2 separate regions of the Homo sapiens genome follow, and region 2 is linked to region 1. Evidence: fine-mapped expression QTL. Tissue or cell type: whole blood. Region 1 holds a variant in brackets; the other region holds the start of a gene. All regions are shown on one strand. Distances are between the middles of the regions.

What was found. PIP is the estimated chance that this variant, and not a neighbour inherited with it, causes the effect.
Region 2: it holds the start of AP3B1, and the variant in region 1 is fine-mapped to the expression of AP3B1 in whole blood (TOPMed, PIP 0.93).

What each region holds. Positions count from the first base shown.
Region 1 is chr5:78,114,096-78,116,856 of GRCh38, forward strand. AP3B1 (adaptor related protein complex 3 subunit beta 1) reads right to left here. Exons shown (of 27, transcript NM_003664.5): 18 at 2,031-2,139. Among named protein-coding and RNA genes, the nearest start is that of AP3B1, 180 kb to the right of the region's middle. The variant GA/G (reference allele first, on the strand shown) is at 1,378.
Region 2 is chr5:78,293,273-78,295,772 of GRCh38, forward strand. AP3B1 (adaptor related protein complex 3 subunit beta 1) reads right to left here and starts at 1,426. Exons shown (of 27, transcript NM_003664.5): 1 at 1,180-1,426. The coding sequence starts at 1,307. RefSeq lists an enhancer at 1,689-2,262.

The DNA.
Region 1 (2,761 bases):
CTTTAGCACTGTGAGCTTGGAGGGAGGCAGACAGAGGATGCTCTGACAACGAGGAGAGAAAAGCTAAGCAAAGGTGAACCAAGTAAACCAAATTTGAGGGAATCTCACTTCAAACCCCAAAGTATATAGCTATGTCAAAAACTTTCTTTTAAAGAATTACGTAAGGATTGATGTAAGGCTAAAGAAATAATTTTGAATTCTTCTGCTTGTAATGGGAAATTCTATTTAGAGTAAAAGAAGGCAACAGTTGAATCTTCTTAGGAACAAATTTTGAGAGGAAAATGAGCCATTCAAATCACTTGGAAAGACCTCCAAATTCAAAGACAATAGGCAAAATGACTAATTAAAGAGTTATTACTTATTCGAGCTAGTAAACGAGTTTTCCATAGGTCAAAGAGATGATCAAGTTACACTGAGGAATTATACTTTTAAATGTTTTATGTGTAAATTATGGTATGCTAGGACTGTTCGCAGAAGAGAATACATGAAGAATATATGTGTATTTTTTAAGTGAAGCATAATTTTTACTATTTAAAATGACTATAACTACAGAGTTGTGTCCCAGACAAAAGGACAAACTGTTGCCCTGCCTGTGATCTATGTAACGAAGCCCTCTTAGGCAGGAACATAACCTTTAATTAAACATTCTAATGGTTAAATAATACCAACATCAGGAAGGTCCATCACAGTGAAAACCTAGGACTGCCTGTATTGTTTTAAGACGGCTTACAAGGGGTACAAGCATGGGTTCTCAAGTTAGTGTTCGGATTCAGATCCTGGCTCTTCTACTTGCCAGTTGTAAAACTGAACAAGTTATTCAACTTCTCTGGGTTTTGGTTTCCTTTTCAGCAAATGGGGATAACACTAGTTACTTTTCAGAGCTGTTGTGAAGATTAAATGATTTGAAACATACAAAGGAGATTAGAACACAACAGGGTCTGCCACAGGGTAAGGCACTCATCATTATCATCATTTACAAACAGGAAAGTTTATTTTACTAAAATAAAGCTACTAAATAAGGACATTTTAGATTTGTGGTAATATCCAAGTTACACGCACATACATATTAAGTCAGATAACTGGCTTATGCTATAAACAATGAAAGAAATTACAGGTAATGTATCACAGATTAATTTATCAGATACTAAAAACAAAGATTTTTGATAAGGAAGACAGAGAAAAGAAGAGTGAATTACCTTACAGTAGGGTAGCAGATAACCATGTAAGAGTGACAGGCCCTGGTTCTCCAAGGAATAAAGATTTTAGAGAAAGTTGGGTGTCGTTTGGTCTTGGGTCAGATTTGCCTATTAGCTTAAGTGTTAATAAGAGCATCAGAAAGTGACTACAATCTATTTTTCATTATGCAAATCACTCACA[GA/G]ATTTTAGCAATGAAGGGACTTTAAGAAATATTTAACTGTACCCCTTCATTTATCTGATATAGAGAAAAGTAGGTGCCTTATTCAATTTGCATAGGTAAAAGCCAGGGCCTCTAAATCCTTCCTATTAAGCATTCTTTTCACTGCATATAGTTACCCTCAACCTTTAGTTTGATTTTTTTATAGTATATAGAGACTTAATAATTTTAGCTTTATCTCTATAGAGGTTCACAGAAAGAGATAAGTATAAAATGAAAGAGAAAAAGACTCTTCAAGGTATAAAATAAACTTTACGTTTTTGTAAAAGAAAGTTACTTTTAAAGACCCCACTAAAAGTTCATCAAGTGTAAAATTATGTTTTTCAATAGATATATTAGGCATTGTGGTTTAGAATTCAGAAAAGTATGAGTTCCTGTTTCAGCTATACCAATGTATCAGCTACTATCCAAGAGATATTGTAAAGTAAAAAGAGAATTTAGTAATTAAAAATTACTTTGAAAACTAAAGAGTGATATATAAATGAAAGGGATTATTTTGATAATACAAACTTCACTTAAAACTACCTGCTGAATATTATGGATTAGGCCTTGTTTCTGAGATATAGAATGTAATCTACTATGTAAATAATATATGCCAATAAATTATAAAACCCACCACTGTCACTGCTACTATCAGAAGAGTCCTCCTCTTCCTCAGATTCAGAATAAAACTTCTTAGCAGAATTCTCTTGCTTTGCTTTTCCTGCTGGGGTCCATTCTTTTGCCTGTTTAAACAAATAAAGTAAATATAAATGAATTCTCATTCAGAGATTTAGAGTTCTGGCAAACTTAATCATTAACAACATAACTGAATTCAAAAGCAAGCTTAAGGCCTCCACAGGGAATGCAACTGTTAGAAGTCCTGGCATTAAGGCTGATTCACTTTACTCCTAAATACAACAACACAAACTCTCACTCAGAGGCCCTATGTTAAACCAACAATCTTATTTTAAATATACAATTTTTAAAACTTTTGTGTTTTTTGGCCCACAGAAGATTTAAACAAAAGTAATATATCCTAAAATAGGTGAGCGAAACTAGAAGCAGATACAATAACAGCAATAACAAACACAAGTTGATAGCTTGACACTGAGGGAAAAGAGAGAAAAAAAAAAAGAAAGAAAAGAAAATATTTAGTGTAGGCAATAAATTGCCCTAACCATCTCAACAGCCTAAATCCTGGAGTAATCCTTGACTTCTCTTTTTTTCTCATATCCTAAACATCTAAGCCATCAAGAAATCCTGTAGCTACCCTGGTCTGACCCACCCTTCTCTCCTGGACTACTCGTTACCTTGCTTCTACTGCCCCTCCACCCTGCCCCCAGCAAACAAACTTTGCAAAACACA
Region 2 (2,500 bases), 180 kb after region 1:
GTTAATTCAGTCTAAACATTTTGCTAATAGTAGAGGCAACAAGCTCCGTACTTGTTCTAGAACAATGGATCATCAAATGCATATAATGAAAAATGAAATCAGTTACCTTACTTTTAAACTTTTCTAACCTTGGGAAAAAGGAAAAGATTGTATCTTACATGCTATATATATGATTTTGATCCTCAATACAGCCAAAATGTAATCCCAATTTGAAGTAGTAGCACTTTCTAGACTACCCAATATTGTTAGTAACGTTTAATTTAAATTTTAATTATACCCTCTAACAGATCTGCAAAGCTACTAGCACAGCTATTCTACCTTAATTTAGCATGAATTTAGTGACAGACTATTATGTGACCCTATTGCTTAGTAATGAAAGATTTAAAATAAGAGAAATGTAAAAATGATAATTCTGGTAAATGTAACCACTACCACCAACCCACCCCCCAAAACAAACAACTTGGGATTTCTTTCCATTTCTCGGTGATACTTTTTACAAAACTAAGTGTACCTTGTTTAACATTCGTTTTTAAAATTCACATTATTAATCTGTAAAAGTTTTGGATTTGTTCACAGTAACACTCTTTTAAAATATTTTCTATTCATATGCTTATTTTGGATTGGTGTTTTTGTCTGTAGTGCAAAGGACATAATCCAAGAACATTAATACTGGTGTAAACCAGTTTGTCCATTCAAACAGCCTAAATCCACCTCTCTGCTCCTACACTCCGGGGTCACAAAATAACTTCCCACAAGCAACACTCGCACTCTCACCTTCACCAAAACACTCCTTTCACCCTAATCAGGGAATGTATTAAAGTCTGATCCGGCGAACGGTAAATAAACTAGAAGACGATGCTCAAAATTCAGACTCCTGAGCCCAGCCCAAGTCCAATTCAATCAGTGTCTTCAGGGGTGGGATCTAAGCTCACCAAGTGGTTTCCTTTTCACTAAAGTTTGAAAACTACTAGAGACCCCTACACACATTCGCCCCAAACTCCCACAACTCCCACCACCGCCAACCAACCCCACCTACCCACCCGCGGGACACGTTACCGCCCTGCCCTGCTCAGACCTCAGGGCGACCCCGCTCCTCTCCAGGAAGCCCACCCTGGCGCCCACTCCTCCGAGTCCGCAGCTCCTCCCTCCCATCCCCGCAACCCAAACCTTTCTCCTCACTTCTTCAAATCGCTGCTAAAGAGGCCGAAGGCCCCCGAGGGGGAAATGGTTGAGGTCGCCTCCTGACCCAGCTCCGTCGCCTCCCCTCCTCCGGACTGCTCATTGTAAGGAAAACTATTGCTGGACATTGCCGCGGTGCTGGCGGGTGCGGGGTTGGTCCTGCCGGGGGTTCTCTCCAAAAGGTTCCAGTCCAGAGGGCACGGAACAAAACTAGTTCTCGTACGGAGGAGCGCGCGCAGGCGCTTCCGGACTCGTCACGGCTCCCTGAGCCGACCTGGCAGTCCACCCCCTGCGCATGCGCAGTGTGCAGGCCTGCTAGATTACCACCCGGGCCATCCAGGCCTGCGCGGACTTTCCTGCTCCGGGCTTTAGAGGTAGCTGAGCGGCTGCGAGCCGGACTGCGGAAGGGGAGGCAGCGGGTGGCTAACTGCCCGGCTCCCGGCCCGTTTGAGGTGTGTCTTTGGAGAAGGATACCCATTGCATCCGTTTTGATCCGTTAAGGAGTTTCCAGAGCCCGGACAGCTCTTTGCTATACTTCAGTAAAGCAATAGTTTTCAGATTTCTCCGGAAATGCCATTTAGCACGCCAGATCACCTTTCCTAAACCCATCACGATCGCTTTTCCTTTTCTTGCTTGTTTCGGCTACTCTCTTCCATCCGGCTTTGCCTTACTTTCATATCGGTCCCAAACAACTTTTCTCCTAGACTTTAAGGAGGCCTCTCCCAACGATGGTTTGGAGGATCCGCACAGAAGCGACCATTCCATCTTTTCAATGAAAGTCTTGGGGGCAGACCGGGCGCGGTGGCTCACGCCAGTAATTCCAGCACTTTGGGAGGCCGAGGCGGGTGGATCACTTGAGGCCAGGAGTTCGAGACCAGCCTAGGCAACATAGCGAGACCCTTTCTCTGCAAAAAATATAAAAATTAGCCGGCGTGGTGGCGCGTGTCTGTGGTCCCAGCTACTGAGGCTGAGGTGGGAGGATCACTCGAACCCAGAAGGAGGGGGTAGCGATGAGTTGAGATCTCTCCACTGCATTCCAGCCTGGGCGACAGAGCGAGACCCTGTCTCAAAAAAATGAAAAAGAAAAGAAAACATCTTGGGGCCACCAGTTCCCGTTTGGAGCTGAAGTGGTGCGTCCTATTGGCGTCTAGCTACCAAAAATAAAATGGACCACCTCGCGCGCCAGTCGTGTTACTCACTAATATGCACTAGGGAGCCTAGGCGGGATGCTTGCCTGGCCCCAGAGTAGCTCTCTCCGGGTGCTGGCACCCGAGAAAACCTCTTTCCCGGGGTGCCTTCCCCCAGCCCGCCTTCTCAGGTG